Linked DNA regions of Homo sapiens. Changing the gene in region 1 together with any one later gene gives a genetic interaction. Each region holds a gene or a part of one and is shown in the gene's direction. Other genes may lie near its edges.

Region 1 (5,620 bases):
GTGGCAATATTCAAAATGGTGTACCTCAGGCTCTGAAAGCAATTATAAAAGAACCGTAGCAAACTATTTTGAAAAAATGGTAACATGGTTGGAATAAGTGTTTAACCTCCTTAGCTGATTACGGCCCTTGTAAGAAACTGAGAGAGTACTGTTTTTTACTTCGTTGTCTCTGTGTACATTATTTATACATATACACATTTTTTAGTCATTCTTTATTGTTATATATTATAGATTCTTGCCTATGTTTTTGTTTCCTTTTGGACTTTTCCTGCTAATTTTGTACTGTTTTTAGGGTCAAAGTAGTTGTATTTTCTCTGGTATTTCATTGGTCAGAGTAATTGTATTTTCTTCCCAAGTATTGAGAAGCCCATCTAAATTCTGCCCCGTAGCTAATACATTGGGGGAATGGGGTGGAGGCGGGGGCGGGATATATTCCCGTAACTTAAAAATAAGCTGACATTTTGAGAATGCTGTGATTAAAAATCAGTATTCTCCTGGGAAGCTAAAAACTCTTATCCAAGTCAGAGATCAGAGTATAGCCTGATAATGAATTCTAGTTGTGTTAAAAATGTTTATGAGTGCGTGTATTAATAAAACTGAAGAGGAGTTACATCATCAAAAAAGGAATGCTTAATTTTGGGACATAGAAAAATGGAGTTAGGCAGAATTGCCATGCTATTTAAAAACTTTCTAGGTGCAAAGGTACCTTGTCCCAAGGACTCGATTACCTGGCCCTCATGCAGGCATGGCCTTGCTCTAAAGATGAATTCAGACCAGGTACAGTGGCTTGCACCTGTAATCCTAGCACTTTTTGAGGCTGAGGCGGGAGGATTGCTTGAGCCCAGGAGTTTGAGACCGGCCTGGGAAACACAGGGACATCCCATCTCTACAAAAGAAACAAAATATCCAGGCGTGGTGGTGCACACCTGTGGTCTCAGCTACTCAGGAGGGTGAGGTGGGTGGATCACTTGAGCCTGGGAGGTTGAGGCAACAGTGAGCCGTGATTGTGATACTGCAATCCAGCCTGGGCAGCAAGAGTGAGACCCTGTCTCAAAAAAAAAGAAAGGATTCACATCAGTCATTGCAGCCTGTAACACTCCTTGTGGTTGGGATTCCATGCTCCCCAAGTAATCATCTGATTTTAATTCAGCCATCATGTAACATATCCTCAGGGATAGACTTGTTACTTGTCATTCATTTTTCAACATTTGATCTTATTGTATGTTACTCATTTGCTGTTCTTATTTATGTCTTAGTCATTTCCATGAATTGCTCTCTCTGAGTCCTGTCTATTCTGGGATAGTAGCAGAATTGTTTGTGGATCTGGGAGACTAAAGACCACAGACGGGGTTTCGCTCTTGTTGCCCAGGCTGGAGTGTAATGGCATGATCTTGGCTCACTGCAACTCTCCGCCTCCTGGGTTCAAGCGATTTTTCTGCCTCAGCCTCCCAAGTAGCTGGGATTGCAGGTATGTGCCACCACGCCCAGCTAATTTTGTATTTTTAGTAGAGATGGAGTTTTACCATGTTGGTCATGTTGGTCTTGAACTCCTGACCTCAGGTGATCCACCCGACGGCCTCAGCCTCCCAAAGTGCTGGGATTATAGGCATGAGCCACCACACCTGGCCTGGGCCCTAGGTCTTTAAATTATTCTTAATAACTCATAAAAGGGGCAGGTGGTCATGTCACTTAAGGACCCTAGTGGTTCTAAGCTGCCTGCTCTTTCTTACAAAGAAATAGATGACTGGATAAAATGGATTGTATTAAAATGTTTTATTTACTTGATCTTCCTATTTTTGTATAATAGGAGGTGCCTATAGATCATTAGGAATTTCCTCTGGTAAGTGGCAATTATATGGAAAACATCTACCATTTGAATTATAAAGATCTTACTCTGAGGTGTTATAATCCTCAACATTTATTACTTATAGAATGAATATTAATTCAACATTTATTGAGTACCTACTTTATGCCAGGAATAGTTGTAGTCACTAGAAATGTAAAGATGATTAATATGTATTCTATACAGTTGAAGATGCCTCATTAAGCGGAGATTAGTGCACATGTAAATAATTAGGATAAGTGCTAGAGTAGAGGTAGTGTGGGAAAGCAGGAGAAAGTGATTCTACATGGAAAGCTAGACTTTAAAGGATTGGTCTAATTCCCTAAATGGAGAATTAGGATAATTCCGACATTTAGTGATACCATGAGTAGCTGTAGAGAAATGTTTGCTGTGAACATATGTGCAGCTTGTGTAGGGAGAGTGACTTGAACTTTAGTTTATAGATGCCCTTCAACTTGTGATGTAGTTATGTGCCAATAAACTTGTTGTAAGTTGAAAGTAACTTAAGTCAAAACACATTTATTACACCTAACCTGCTGAACATCATAGCTTAGCCTAGCCTACCTTAAATGTGCTCAATACACAGACATTAGCCTCCAGTAGGGCAAAACCATTTGATAGCACAGTGTATACTATTATGCAGTATTGGTTGTTTACCCTCGTTATTGAATGGCCGACTGGGAGCTGCAGCTTATTGCTACTGCCCAGTGTCTTGAGAGTGTTGTACTAGATATCACTAGCCTTGGAAAAGATCAAAATTCAAACTTTGAAGTACAGTTTCTAGTAAATTTTTATCTTTTTCTGGGCTAGCAAAACAGGTTAAGAACTCTCTCCTCTTCAGTGCTAGGCACTGCTGTGTGCTATTTTAATTGTTAAACAACCCTGAGTGATAGGTGGTATTTCCCCTATCTTACAATGAAGAAACTTAAGGTCAGAGAAATAATAAAAGTCATTTGCTCAAGGTCATATAATGCCATTAATATCTCCTTCAGTTATCTGTTTCTGTGTAATAAGCTATTCTTTAATTTTATGACTTAAAGCAATGATTTATTATTTTTCATGTTTCTTACGCGTCGACTAAGCTCAGCTAGGAAGTTCTACCTTGGGGAGTCTCCTTTGGTTGCAGTCAGATAGCAGCTAAAATTAAAGTACTCTGTAGGTTCAACCAGGCTGCACGTCCAAGATGGCTTCTTTATTTGTCTGTCTATCATCTCAGCTAGAATGGCTGGAAGAGATAGGGGCTGACTGGTCATCCCTTTCAACAGGGTCTCACCACATGATCAACTTGGGCTTACTCATTAAATTGCACAGCAGTCTTGGGCTTGCTGTATAGTATCTGACTTACCCTAGGAGGACTTGTCCAAGACAGCCAGGCAGCAACTGCAATGTTTCTGATGATTTAGGCTCAGAAATCACGTCTGGTCATTTCTGCTGCATCTGTGGGTTAAAAGTAAGTCACAGGGCCACCCCAGATTCAAGAGGAGGCGGCTACGTAAGGGCATGACTATCCAGAGGCCATCTTGGACACTAGCTTCTACCACATGCTGTGCTGTCTTTGGGAATTGCTTTCGGACAGGCTGGAAATAGATGGGTCTTACAAATGCCTGGCTGAAATGTGAAGAGGGTGCAAGAAAACATCTGGGGAACGTGAATGTCTGAGAGAAGACTCAAGGAAGAGGAGTCATTGAAAAAAAATAAATGACTAGAGACAGGAAGAAAACTTGGAGAAAGTGGTGCCACAGAAGCCAAATGGGGGGAGGGAGTCGCTGCCACCATAGCCATAGGTTCTTAGATTTGTTTTTCATGTTACAGTGGCCCTGTGGTTTTAAGGTACTCATAATTTACGATTACCCATTTAAAAAACTGACCTTTTTCCTTCCCATTCACTCCACTCCACACACATGCACCCAGTTGATGCCTTAAGTTCCAGTTAGAACCTCATTGATGTAATCCAATGTGAAACATTTATACTTTAAGTCATTTGTAAATTGTGATTATGTTTGGTCTACTTTACTGAGAGTAGGCTTGCCTAGGAATAGAGGAAATGTAGTGCCATGGCTTCCTAGAGAGGTGGTTGGAAAGATGAGAGTTGTCTCTAGAATAATGGCGATGGGGAAGGTGAGTATAATGGCACACTTCTGCTGGTCTTGCTAGGATGTTCTTTTGACTTCTGAGAAAGTATAAAGTGCCATGCACTGAATTATGCCATAGATAGAAGGGTGAGATACAGAGTATATTTTTTCCTATAATTAATCTTTTTTTTTCCTTTTTTGAAAAAAAATCACTGGTGTTTTCTCTATTTCAGAGCACAAAGTTATCATTGTTGGGCTGGATAATGCAGGGAAAACTACCATTCTTTACCAATTGTAAGTATTAACTATTTTAAAAATTATTTTATTTCTAGTTACTTTTTTGGCCTGGGTGATAGTCGATCAATGAATGCAGTAAGAAATTACATGAAACCTAAGTTACCCTGTAAGAAAGCAGGTTGGCTATAAACCTGGAGCCAGATCTCAGCAATAGTTAGTAGAAAGCAAGAAATTTATATGATATTGAGCATATAGTTGGCATTGAGTTGTCCACTTGTTTTGTGCTAAAGCTCTTTTGTTTGTAGAAAGTAGAAAAATATGGCCGGGTGCGGTGCCTCATGCCTTTATCCCAACACTTTGGGTGGCAGAGGTGGGAGGATCGCTTAAAGCCAGGACTTTGAGAAACCGCTTGGGTCACATAGTGAGATGCCATCTCTTTATAAGATATATATGAATATATATATATTTTAAAATTAGCTGGATGTAGTGGTGCACACCTGTAGTTCCAGCTACTCAGGAGACTGAGGTGGGAAGATTGCTTGATCCTATTCAGGAGGTCAAGGCTGCAGTGAACCTCATGCCACTGATTATGTATGATCACACCACTACACTCCGGCCTGGGTAACATTAAAAAAAAGAAAGTAGAAAACTATAAAGTAGAAACTATAAAGTTTCCTGGAATGACCTAGTATATGCCAGATAGCCTACGACCTAGTTCCAGCCCTGTTTAAACCCTCACTCATGTTGTAAACTAGTGGGAAAAAGATATTTAGGTATAAATTATAAAAGGAGGTCATGCTGATTTGTCCTTGATTAAAAAATTGTTCAAGCAAGTTAGCTTCCTTGCTAATTGTAATGTATATAAACTTTTTTCCCCAGTTCTATGAATGAAGTTGTACATACATCTCCTACAATAGGAAGTAATGTAGAAGAGATAGTGATTAATAATACACGTTTCCTAATGTGGGATATTGGTGGCCAAGAATCTCTTCGTTCTTCCTGGAACACTTACTATACTAACACAGAGGTAATGTTTCTTACAATATTTAAAATTCTATAAACAGAATGCTTGGAAAACATCTAGATTTGAGTCCTTATAGTTAATCTTTTTGAAATATCACAGTATGTTAATACATAGAGAGTTTAAGCAGAGTAAAATCTGATTTCCTATTCCAAGGTCATTGTTCAATATGTCCACTATCATTGAACCTCTATAGGGAGAATTGGTGGTTAATTATGTTCTGATTGTGTATTGATCTCAGAACTTGTCTTTAATAGTTTTTTTTAATGACTTCCATCTCATAGTTTATAATTTCATTTCTCTCTATTTATGTTTGACTGAGTTTAGCTCACCAAATGAGAGGGTTTTGATGGTTTGAATCCTAGCCAGTTTTACTATTTTCTTTTACAAAACACAATTGCACATTAAATAATTGTTTTTCTTTTGATTATAAGGCATTTTAGACAT
Region 2 (3,689 bases), about 84 Mb from region 1:
AGATAATTAGTCAAGCTAATTAGAAAGTATCTTCTGGTGTCTCTCTTTAGGAAAAAATATCTACAGTCTGTTAGGTAAATAGCTTAGGAAATAAAAGCCATCAAAATCATCTGGGAAACTTATTTAAAATATGTATTTCTTAGCCTGAATACCCCCTCCCATTTCTGATTATACCAAGAAAGGAAAGGGAGGCAGATTATATATTTTGAAAATGCCTCTGTTAGTTAACAAGAGAAATGTCTCATAAATTGTGTATCTTTTTCTAAATGTCAGAATAAATGATATACTTAAATATGTATTAGGGTGATAGTCTTAAACTTAAAATATCATTTAAATGAGAAAGTGATTTCTAATACAAAGCCTCAACTTACTAAGTTAATTGAGATTATTTTAAAGTTTCTCCAAAATGCATCCTCCAAATAAAAATATAATTTCTGACAGTGAATCACAGGTAACCAGTTTGACATGACAGATTTCATTTTATCACTCTAAAATATATTTCCTCAGTGGATGAAATGAAAATTTTATAGCTCTATAGGGAAAAGTAGATGTGAATATTAATATAACATCTTATGTAAATATACACTGTTTGAGATTGATAACTAATTTAATTCCTTATATTTTGACTATTTTCCAATTAAAGTTTACATAACATTTTAAATCCCAATGTATCCTTTTTAAAGATATATTTATTCGTGGGTCATATAAATTAGATGTCATTGTCCACAAGAATTATTTGGTGGGTAGTCAGTTTTCTATCAAACTGAATTTTATCACACTGTGAAAAGAATGTATCAAATAGAGACAGATCCATCAGTGCTTGATTTTCTTTTGAACTGGAGCATTATATCTGTATTATGTACTTAGAATTTTATATTCAGTAGTTTAGTTTGATTTAATAGCCAACTAATATGGCAAATCTGGGTGATTAAAAAAAGCAAAAATTAAAGCACATATTGAATGACTTTATAGGCTATAAAAGTAAAACTCATCTTTTGTTGAATTTTTAGAGGAAGAAGAGAAAAATAGAAAGTGTTCTCCTGAAGAAATTCAGAGAAAAAGACAAGAAGCACTGGTTCGGAGAATGGCTAAAGCACGAGCCTCATCTGTAAATGCAGCTCCCACTTCATTTCTTTAATGAAATATTAGTTGGAAGACTTCACGAAGACTGCTGATAACTATCTGTGATTGATAGGAAATTTTTTTTCTTGATTTCTCTGTGAGAAATGTAATGCTGACTTTTATAAAGCCTGGACTTCTACTTTATTTAATAAATCAATGTTTGCAATGGTAAATGAAACATTTCCTTGGACATGTATTTGAAAGTCATTAAATACAAAAGTTTTGGAAATTCAGGAAAGTTAGCAATTATGTACGGATATTATACAGAGGAAAGTAGTTATATTTTTAAATGCTATTATTGCAGAGGATCATCAAAAAAGAGGTAATCTACGTTATTTCCTATTCTAATGTCTTTTCCTAATAAAAAACTTCAACTTTCTAAGTTAGTAGAGACTGTTTTTGTAGTTTTACTTTCATTAACTGTTGCTTAAGGTTTTTATACACTTCCAGATTTTAATTAATACTTTCATATTTCTAGGAACATGGTTGATATGAAATAAAGGACTTTTTATTTGTAAGGAAATTATGTTCAGTTCTTAGAAGTGGATTTGAATTTTAATAATTCTAAAATGTGACACATTTTGGAAACTTTCCACCATATTTAGGAAAACTTTGATTTTAGAAGTCTAACATAGAGGAAAAGAAGTAGTGGATTGTCTACAAAAGTAATGTGGCATCATTAACATTTAGAACTGGCAGAAACTTCATATGTCATCTGGTCCAGCTTCCTTATTGTATCGGTGAGAAAAAGTAATACTGTTTTCAAAGTCATAGGCAAGTTAATGCTGTGCTACAATTAGAATGATTTATTTGGACACCTAAACAATTATACTATTTGTTTCAAAGTATCAGTACATAAAATAACTTGAGGGAGTATTATTTTCTAGTATAAAACAAAAGATGTAATTAAAAGCACAATAAGGACTGTTTGATAATAATGCTCATTGTTCCTTATTTTGCTTTAAAGAATTAGTCTTTCCAGGATATAAAAATGAGAATCTTTTTTCTTTTCAGTTTTTCTGTAACTGTAATTTTCCCCTCAATTAATTTACTTAGTTGACTCATCTTTTCTTCTCTATTACTGTTTTGTTTTTTTCTTTTTTTGCCATTTTGCCTATTTGGAATTTGCTAAACCAGTAATAGAAGTCCAACTAGAGGGCGTAAGGCAGGGAGGATGCTTTATTCCTCTTAAATGGTTTTAGGAGATCTAGAGAAAGTTAGAGATATGAAACACCTGTCATGGTGTGGCATTTATCACTATCAAGTGTCTCAAAGCTGTGATAATATGGTAGTTACTGCCCTATAGCTATACAGATACTCCTCAACTTACCGTGTAGTTACATCCCAATAAACCCATCATGAGTTGAAAATACCTTAAGTTAAAAATGCATTTACTACACTTAATCTACCAGACAACATAGCTTAGCTTAGCCTACCTTAAACATGCTCAAATCACTTATATTAGCCTAGAGTTGGGCACATCATCTGGCAATACGGCACACTGTAGAGTATCAGTTGAGCTGATGCCCAGCATCGTGAGAATGTTGTACCACATATCTCTAGCCTGGGAAAGAATCAAACTTTAAAGTATGGTTTCTATTGGACGCATATCACTTTTGCATCACGTTAGAGTTGAAAAATTGTAAGTCAACCATTTTAAGTTGGAGACTGTACATCAAAAATGGTATTTTCATATCTACAGTGGAGTACTGGAGTTTAGCTAACCTATATTATTTTTCCAGGAATATATAATAACCTAGATAAATGCAAGTAGTTTCTATGTACAAAAATAAAGAGCTGAGAATCTTTTACTAAAAGTGGCTTCACTGTGTTCTGACTATGCTTTGGATATCTCTGTCCTTGCTTAAGCTCCTCCCTGCTTACTGCTTGCTTTTTTAAGAGTACTTTTAGCCTATTCTGTTCATTCATTTAGACTCAGCCTAATAAGTCTGTTTGAACCTCGTACCTAACCATCTTCACTGGAATTGATTGCTTCTCTCTGATCATAATGGTACTAATTATTGTGTCTTTCATTGAGCAATACTATAATGCCTTTATGTGTTGTTTAGTTGTATAAATCTTATTTTATAATTTGTCATTTTGTGTCTCTGGTAATTCTGCCAAATTCTTATACAGCTCATAGTATTATTTACGTAATAGTTTTCTCTAAGTGACTCCCTTTTTTTAAAAAAAAAAAAAAAAAAAAAACTTTTATAGCACTTCTGGGTGGTGGCAGGTGTAATGGCCCTGTACATCTGAACCTCACATGACTGGTTTTTAGGGTCACTGCTCCTGTTCATACCACTCTCCTTTCCTATCCTGACTCTTCCTTTAGCCCTTGTTGGAAACATTAGGGGGTGAATGGCCCATAAATGAGCATGCAGAGGGCTGACTATATAGTTTGCCTGGCTTTTCTCTTTCCTAGTCTATAGGGAATCTGGGGAAGGGACAACTGGTAGCCTGGCAATTTCCCCCTAAAGTTCCGCTGCTGTTTCTGCATCTCAGACTGATGCTAATAATGCCATTATTTCCAAAAAGAGCCTGTTGAAAGCGGAGCTTATCTCTCA
Region 3 (4,560 bases), about 150 Mb from region 1:
CCCTGCCCCTTCACTGTGCCCTCCCCCTGCCCCTTCACTGTGCCCTCCCCCTGCCCCATCACTGCGCTCCCCCTGCCCCTTCACTGTGCCCTCCCCCTGCCCCTTCACTGTGCCCTCCCCCTGCCCCATCACTGCCCTCCCCCTGCCCCTTCACTGTGCCCTCCCCCTGCCCCTTCACTGTGCCCTCCCCCTGCCCCTTCACTGCCCTCCCCCTGCCCCTTCACTGTGCCCTCCCCCTGCCCCTTCACTGTGCCCTCCCCCTGCCCCTTCACTGTGCCCTCCCCCTGCCCCTTCACTGTGCCCTGCTGGGCAGCCTTCCTGGGCTGCAGGGCAGATGCTCTGTGGTACCTGCTCCCGCTCCTCTCAGGAAGGCCTTCCTCTCCCTCTCTGGGTCACCTCTCCCTGGCACATGCTTCTCCCAAACCTGCATCTCCAGTGTCTTCTCTCCTCAGCTACAACCTGCCATCTGCAGGTTTACCAGGCACTTTTCACGTGACTGTTCCACCATCTTGTCATTTTTTATATCTTCTGTCATTTTGTAAAACCCAGCTCATCTGCCTGCTGCGTCTCCATGTCCGGCCTGCCCTGGGTGGGTAGAGACAGGTTCGCGCTGTCCCTCAGATTTCCACGTTAGTGTTTTATTGGTTAGTTTGTTTCTGGGTCTCTCTCACCCTCTAGGGAGCAGCCACGGCTCCCCCCACCGCCCCCGCTGCCTGCTGCTCTCCTCCTGCCGGGCCAGGTGATGCAGCGTCTGACCACGTGCAGTCTTTAGACTGCCCTAGTCGGTCTGTACGCTGCAGCTGGATTCGTTTTCCAAACATTTTATTTCAAAATACATTTCTCTGTTTAGAAGCACCCAGTTGCCCCTCTTGCCTGGAACTGAAATCTCACCATTGTGACCTGATGTTGGAAACTTGCCCTGGCTTCTGGGACCTGGCCCTCTTCGTCGGCCTTGTGTCCCCCCGAGCCTAGCACAGTGCCTGGTTCACAGCAGGCAGTCAGTAAATGGCCACTGAGTGAATGAATGAGGAAATGCAGATTCCGCCAACATTTACTCATCGAACTTCTTTGTTCTTCTTTCCACGAGAATTAAAACCTTAAGTTTCTCATTTTTAAAAATGGTCATTGGCCGGGCGTGATGGCTCACGCCTGTAATCTCAGCACTTTGGGAGGCCGAGGCAGGCAGATCACCGGAGGTCAGGAGCTCGAGACCAGCCTGGCCAACATGGCGAAACCCCATCTCTACTAAAAATACAAACTTTAGCCGGGCGTGGTGGCGGGCGCCTGTAGTCCCAGCTACTCAGGAGGTTGAGGCAAGAGAATCACTTGAACCCAGGAGGCGGAGATTGCAGCGAGTCGAGATCGTGCCACCGCACTCCAGCCTGGGCAATAGAGACTCTGTCTCAAAAAAAAAAAAAAAAAAAAACATTGTCATAGTGGCAGGCACAGTGGCTAATGCCTGTAATCCCATAATCCCAGCACTCTGGGAGGCTGAGGTGAGTAGATCACTTCAGCCCAGAAGTTCAAGACAAGCCTGGGCAACATGGGAAAACCATATCTCTACAAATACTCGCCTGCTTCTGCCACTCTGCACCATCAATATAAATAATAACTAATTCACAATAATCAGTCATGAAAGAATAAAATGGAAAACATGCCAAATGCAGGCCCCTGCTTTGTTATCACTGCATGCCATACACATAAAGTTCTCTGTCACGTGACTACAGGAGCATCTCCATTCCTGTGCCTCGTCCTCAGGTATCAGACGCAAGCCACTCGCGGGCTGAAGTCAGCCCACAGTCCTCCTTGAAGTCAACAGAAATGAACTACTGAGCCACGAGGGGCCTAGACCTGGGATCCGCCAGCGTTTTCTGTAAAAGACCATAGAATAAACATTGTAGACTTCCTGGCCATACAGTATCTGTCCAGCTCCTCAGCTCTGCTGTGAATGCCCAGCTCTTCCATGGTAGCACAGAACCTTATCACCGTGCAGGTGCACACGAGGCTGGGCTCTGGGTTCCTGTGAGCTCTGCCTACCAACTCAGGCAGTAGGGGGTGGGGGGCGTCCAAAGGATGTGCACAGATTGCCAGCACCAGGCCCAGCTGCTGGAACATCCTCATAGCTTTACTCACATCTACACGGACGCCTTAAGTTCACCCCATCAGTGCAGGGAGACAGGGGCCTTCAAATGTGATGACACGACACTGCTGTGGCCTGTGCTCTTGGAAGCCTGCAAAGGCCAGCACACCCGACCCTCCTCTGCCTCACCTCCTGTGCCACCCCATCCTCACCTGCTTCCCCAGCCTCTCCTCATCCACACCTGCTCGGCCCCTCCTCCACCGCCTCCCTCCGGCCCGCTGGTCCTTACTGCATCCCCTCGGGCCCTGCACCCTGCCCTCTGCTCCCTGTGCCCCCCATGCCTGCTCTCGCCTTGTTTTGCACACATTCTGTCCTCTTCTAGGGTCTCCGCCCCCTCCCCTTCCCTGATTAACTCCTGCCTGTCCTCACTGTAGGTCATGTCCTGAGGGAAGAGGGCCCCAGCCTTTCTAGCAGGAAAGGCCAGAGCCTTAGGCCTAGGGAACCAGGAAGGGAGCAGTTATTAGTTGCCCCTGGATACAGAATCTGCCTAGATGCATATATAGAACTGGTTCAGACTTGGCACAATCTCTTTCCCTCTCACTCTTTCACATTTGCAATTCAAAGAGAATATACAGAGCCATTTGTATTATATAAAGTGATTATTGCATTGAATTTAGACTAGAGAAGGCATTTGGAGATCGTTTTAGTAAATTATCGTAACCAATCTAAAAATACTTCTGAACTGTCAACCAGAACACAGAAATCCTGTATTACTTGCTGTAGTCTGGACAGTTTAGGGGAACGTGGCACCGATCTCATCTTCACCGTCGATCAGTGGTTCTCTGACTTGGTCCAGTGGCCGCACACCAGCTAGTGAAGAAAACCACAGACTCCAACTGCACTGTGTACGCTCTGGTGTCCTCATTTCCAAAAAAAAAAAAAAAAAATCTACAAGATAGAGTTTAAGAAATCTCATTTGAGTTGCCCTGCTAATATTTGCAGCTCGCTGGTGGGTGCCGTGGAGGCCAGTACTCACCGTCAGGCTGTGGCAGGTACAGTGAAAGGAAAAACTCCATGAGAGAACGGTGGAAAGTTCACCTGAGAGTGAAACGCATGCCAGTTAGAGTGGCTGAAAAATAGCATGGACAACACCAAGTGCCACGGGACGTGCAGCCGTGGGACCCCTCACTGCTAGGGAAGGCAAGATGGCACGGCCACTTAGGAAGACAGCTTGGCGGCCTCCTACAACACTAAACATACTCTTAGGTACAACCCAGCAATCCAGTTACTGCATTACGCTCCTGGATATTTCACCCAGTTATGCCGAATGCTTATATCCACACAAGAATCTGCCCAAAGATGTTGATACCAGCTTTATCCATAGTTGCCAAAAACTAGAGGCAACCAAGGGGTCCTTCGATAGGTCAGTGGGTAAACACACTGGTAATGTGGACAGTAGGATGTTCAGCATTTAAAAAAAAAACAACTATCAACCCCTCAGAAGACCTGGAGGAAACTGAGATGCCTGCAGCCCAGGGACGGCTGGTGGCTTGCAGCAGGTCACACGGCTACTCAGGCGTAGAGCCTGGCCTGTCTGAAGCTCAAGGCCCAGCACCCGTTCCTTTCCTTACACATAGAGTTTCACTAGGCACGCACACGCTGACTCTGGATTGATGAAGAAACAGTTTGGGAATTTTTAACAGCATCGTTCACATTTTTAATGCCTGCCTCCTGCCTGGCACTGTGCTCAGCACTTTCATGTATCTTCTTTAATTGTCACATCTGTGAGGTGGGACAGATGACCTCAGCTCTGTAAACTCAGCCATTGCTGAGCCTGCAGTGTGAGTGTGAGGCCACATGTCAGAACCCCGGAAGACACAAGCCCCACTCTCCTGCCTTCAACACAGCCCCCCACACCGCCGCTGTGGCTGGAATTGGAGCAGGTCGTTAGCTCCTGCCTGAGGAAGCCCAAATAAAGGACTGCAGAACAACTGTAGTGCAAAGCTGAGACTCATTGCCCTCCTAGGCGTTTCATGAGCAGGTCCTGAGTTCTCTGTGTCCCGGCGTGGAGTGCAGGAGGCGTGGAAAGGGAGTAGTGCGTGTGTGAGTTAGTATACAGAAGAAGTGTGTGGCAGGCTCTACCACACGTTTTTAAAATATGTAAACTCCTAAACTTCTTGTCAGAGAAGCGCTTGGCATGCACACAAAATCATTTAGCTAATTCTTGAGAAACATATTGTTTAATTGTCTGTCTCCCTTGCTAGATCATACCACTAATGAGTGCTCGTTCACTAACCTCCCCGCCAGCCTTGCAGTCTCTGTCAGGCAGGAGGTACTTAAAGCATGTTTATTGACTGGCTGCAGAAATGAGGACATCTACCGTATTCAAAGATAGTGCCCGTTACATTGAGAAAAGACAGAGTGAGCATCCACTTTTAGCTTCTTAAAAGGTTTAAACATTCTGATCTTATTTTCCCATT
Region 4 (4,560 bases), on another chromosome or scaffold:
AAAGTCAAAAACCAAAAAGTCAGCACTGAATGACATTTCACACATGGGTAACTGCATGAGTGGTGTTGAGGTAGAAGATGGGAAAGGAGAGCAACTTTAGGGTGGGAGAAAGTTTTTTCTCTTTTTTTAATGTAATAGTTTATTTTTGATAATTTTTGATAATTGAATGTGAACTTGCAAAAGTGTGTCTCACGAAAACTCCCATATTTGGGTGGATGTCCTGACTGGGGCTCAGGCTATAGGTCAGCACTGGACACTGGAGGGTGGATTTGGATGACACCCATCTGGCTCTAGTGTTCATTTGTACCCAAAGCAGTGAGGATGGGAGGAGGGGGCCAAGAACTAACCCCCAAGGAGTCCACAGTTAGGGGGAGGAGGAAGACAAAACCATTGAAGAAGGCAGAAAAGGGTTGGTTGGAGAGATTATGAGAAATAGGAAAGTGATGTATTAGCAGCTGAAGGAGAAAGTTTCGAGACATTTGGGCAGTCACCTGGCTCATGCTGCTAGGAAGTTCAAGAAGACGAGAACTGCGGAAGGACACCAGATTTTGTGGGAAGAAAGTAATTGTTAGAAATGGGGTTTCTTTAAATGATGAACAGTCCAATTCTTTAGTGACCAGAAATGTGTGAGCAGAAATAAAGGCGGGAAGAGAAAACATTGTGGTTCAGAAGTCTGCCATTGGGAGAAATAAATTTGAGTTTTAGTGTGAGAGAACATCAAAGCGTAACTATAATTGTTAGTTTTCATGGTGTTAGAGGGTTTTCATATGGAACAGGTGCCTGGAAGAGCTCACCTAGCTTCTCTGGTTAGGGCAGTCCTCAGGCCAGCATTGCCTGAGAGCTGATTAGAGATGCAGAATCTTCAGCTCCTCCCTAGAGTCTGCATTTTAACAAGATCCCCTGGTCATTTGCCTGCTCACTGATGCTTGAGAAGTGCTAGTCTAGGACTTATAGTAAGTGGCAGAGTTCAGACTGGATGTAGCTTAGTCCAGGAATATTTCCAGGTAATGCTAACTTAGATTTTTCTCTCTCTTTTTGTGTGTGTTTGTTTGTTTTTTGGTATTTTCTTTCCATAGTGTCAAAAGTTTGGACAGTATAACAAAGAAGACCCCACTTCTTTTAGGTTATCAGATTCCTTTTCTCTATATCCTCAGGTAAGTAATGTATGTTTCTAAAATAACTACAGAGCAATAAATTTTGATAGAAATTAACTTTATTCTTAGGGTAAAGTGAAGACTTTTTAATGTGTTGAGACTCAGTCTGTAGGTGACAGAGATTGTTCAACCCAAGTCGAATATGTGTCTAGGCAAGACAGCACCCTACGCCCTACAGAAGATAGAGATGACATGCAGAGGGGAGAAAACTCATGCATACATTTTCATGAACAGGCAAAATAGGATCATTGATATAAGGCCGTAAAAAATATCTCTCATGTGTAGAAGTTCTGGGGAAACAGCTACCTCAGCAACAAACCAAGAAAATGAGCACACATGGAGATGAAGATAACAAAACAAAACCACAGTTAGTACAACAAATATTTAATAATATGTCTGTGGTTATTATGTGCATCATAACCAGGAGTGAGCAATAAGCAGCTCCTGAAAGTAACTGCACTCTGCATGAACCAAGCCTTTGGAAGCCATTGGACAAGAGAGAGGAGCAGGAGAAGTAGATGAATTTCCGTCTCCATTGTAACTTAGGAAATAGAGCACAATTCATGGGTGTCTATAAGGATTACAGGAGCTGAGGCCAACTGAGTATTAAATATTTAGCACAATGCCAGTAACCTGTTCAGCACTAAATGTGACCTAGCTCCATAGCAGGTGCCTGGGACTCTGAGGTGTCCATGTGCCAGAGGTTAAAGCTGTGTGGTGTTGTGAGAAGAGCCCTGGACCGGCCAGAGTCAGGTTGAGGTTCCAGTGCTGGCTCCGCAGGGGCTGACCTTAGAGGAGGTTCCAAAGCCCCGTAGAGTTTGGTTTCCCACCTCTAGCAGTGGGGAGTTGGTCTGGTGAAGTGGTTTGCAGTTTTTTTTTTTTTTTTTTTTTTTTTTAAAGCCATGGAATCCTTTCTTTGAGAGGAGCTGCCCTTAAAAGCCAGCACATAAAGCAGACAGAGTTGGTGCTTCTCTGGTTGTGCCTGTGTACCACCCCCACACTGGGTCCCACCAGAGCCCTCATCCCTGGGCCCCTGAGGACTTGATGAAGACTCTAAGAGCACAGCTTGAAAACCAGATGAAATGCTTTCTCAGATTCCTTCTGTCAAGGCATTCTAGGAAAGAGGCCAACAGCCCAGTCTCTAGAGCCAGGCGGCCAGGTGTAGAGTCCAGCTGTGACACTCAGTAGTGGGGTGACCTTGGACAAGTTGCTCGCCCCTCTGTGCCTCAGTTTCCTCACCTGTAAACTAGGGATGGTAAGAGAACTTACCTCATGGGCTTATTGGAAGGATTAAATAGTTCTTGTCAAGTGCTTTGTGACTTGCATGTAGGATGTATTAGATGTCAGCCTTGATTATTATTTAGGAACCTATGATTGAATATTTGGAGTCTCAGGAAGCTTTACACTTCACAAGGCAGCTCATTTTCGTGTTCTGGCAACTCTTTAATGTGAGCTGAAAGTCTGCCCCCACCCCTTCTTCTCATCCTCGAGGGCGAGAACCTATGGTTGCAGTGTCATCCCTTGTCCCTTTCTCCCCTGCACCAACACTTCACCATCCCAGCTTGTGTCCTGAGCTGTCATCTGCTGTTCCTGTGCCTGGAATCCCCTTCCCCCTGGCCCTGTGGCCTCCTCAGCCACGTCTCTCAGGGTGCACTGTCAGTCCCCGGAGCTCTAGGAAGTCTCCTCCTGGCCCTCCACCCCCACTCCCCACTGCTATCCTGTACTCTGGCTCATAACTCGTAGCCCGAGTGTGCCTTTCTCACTGGGCCTGACTTCTGAGAGCAGATATTCTGTCTCCACTGCCTGGCACAGTGACTCTGGAAATAAACATTTCTTTGGCTTTCCTCTTAACTGTGGAAGCTTTGACATACCCAGAGGCCCTTTTCTTAAAAAAATTTTGTATTTTTTTAAAAATTTTTAATTTTTAATTTTTTTGAGACGGAGTTTTGCTCTTGTTGCCCAGGCTGGAGTGCAATGGCCTGATCTCAGCTCACCGCAACCTCCCCCTACTGGGTTCAAGTGATTTTCCTGCCTCAGCCTCCTGAGTAGCTGGGATTACAGGCGCCCACCACCACACCCGGGTAATTTTGGATTTTTAGTAGAGACGGGGTTTCTCCATGTTGGTCAGGCTGGTCTTGAACTCCCGACCTCAGGTGATCCGCCCGCCTCGGCCTCCCAAAGTGCTGGGATTACAGGCGTGAGCCACCACGCCTGGCCAAAGGCCCTTTAAAAAAAAAAATTAATTTTTAATGTGGTAAAACACACATAACAAAATTTACCATCTTAACCATTTTTAAGCATACCGTTGAGTAGTGTTACGTGTATTCCCATTATTGAGCAACTGATGTCTAGAATTTTTCACTTTGCAGAGCTGAAACTCTGTGCTCATTAAGCAACAACTCTCAGTTTTCCTCTTTCCCTAGCCCCTGGTGCCCCCTTATGCTTTCTGTTCTGTGAAACCAGAGAGCCCTTTTCTGGGTTCTCCTATTTCAGAGCCCTGAGGTAGATCTACTCTGTGGGTGTCTAAGAAGGTTACAATTATATGCATTTCTCTTTCCGTTCTTTGTGAATGCAGTTTATGTTCCATCTGAGAAGATCTCCATTTCTTCAAGTGTTTAACAACAGTCCTGATGAGTCGTCATATTACAGACATCATTTTGCCCGGCAGGACCTGACCCAGTCCCTCATCATGATCCAGCCCATTCTCTACTCTTACTCCTTTCATGGGCCACCAGAGGTGAGGCTCTACCCAAATGCTTTCCTGAGGATTGGAATCACCTAACATATATTCTTTTTTAAGCAAATTTACTTAGCAGAACTGTAAAAAAGAAGTAAAATTTGGAGTTTTTATAGTAATTTAACATTATTTCTATTAAAAAATACCTTTAGGAAAATGTCAAAGGACATATAAAGCTATTATTTGTGAAAGGCAGGAATAAATGTAAAAAACTCTAGGAAATAACTTGGATGCTTTCTTTTTCCTTGTGCTTGTATACTTACATCCAACAATTCCATGTCTTGTATCTGAAGGAAAGACTCCTAGATACAGAGTAGACTTTGTGCCAAAAAAAAAAATAGTAAAGGAACTACTATAATAGAGGATCAAATAACAATCCGAATGTTTAATATAGGAAAATAAATAAGTAACCTGAGAAATGCAGTTGACCCTCAGTATTCATGGAAGATTGGTTCCAGGACCTCCCTCAGATACCAGAATTCTTAGATACTCAAGTTACTAATATAAAATTACATAATATTTGCATGTAACCTTGGCACATCCTCCTATATACTTTAAATCATCTCTAGATTAGTTATAATACCTAATATAATGTAAGTACCATGTAAATAATTGTCATACTGTATGGTTTAGGGAATAATGACAAGAAAACAAGTCTGTACATGTACA

The links. A genetic interaction does not mean that the proteins touch.
Region 2: changes in ARL5A (region 1) and ETAA1 are lethal when combined (synthetic lethality), as found in Homo sapiens cells (one large-scale study listed by BioGRID).
Region 3: changes in ARL5A (region 1) and TRAPPC12 together harm fitness more than expected from each alone (negative genetic interaction), as found in Homo sapiens cells (one large-scale study listed by BioGRID).
Region 4: changes in ARL5A (region 1) and SEC23B together harm fitness more than expected from each alone (negative genetic interaction), as found in Homo sapiens cells (one large-scale study listed by BioGRID).

What each region holds. Positions count from the first base shown.
Region 1 is NC_000002.12:151,813,728-151,819,347, reverse strand, and holds part of ARL5A (ADP-ribosylation factor-like protein 5A), read left to right. Parts: intron 1-4,148; coding exon 4,149-4,209; intron 4,210-5,031; coding exon 5,032-5,179; intron 5,180-5,620. UniProt on the Homo sapiens protein: Lacks ADP-ribosylation enhancing activity.
Region 2 is NC_000002.12:67,408,901-67,412,589, forward strand, and holds the end of ETAA1 (ewing's tumor-associated antigen 1), read left to right. Parts: intron 1-1,010; coding exon 1,011-1,138; 3' UTR 1,139-3,189; downstream 3,190-3,689. UniProt on the Homo sapiens protein: Replication stress response protein that accumulates at DNA damage sites and promotes replication fork progression and integrity.
Region 3 is NC_000002.12:3,416,634-3,421,193, forward strand, and holds part of TRAPPC12 (trafficking protein particle complex subunit 12), read left to right. Parts: intron 1-4,560. UniProt on the Homo sapiens protein: Component of the TRAPP complex, which is involved in endoplasmic reticulum to Golgi apparatus trafficking at a very early stage.
Region 4 is NC_000020.11:18,544,880-18,549,439, forward strand, and holds part of SEC23B (protein transport protein Sec23B), read left to right. Parts: intron 1-1,076; coding exon 1,077-1,154; intron 1,155-3,729; coding exon 3,730-3,891; intron 3,892-4,560. UniProt on the Homo sapiens protein: Component of the coat protein complex II (COPII) which promotes the formation of transport vesicles from the endoplasmic reticulum (ER).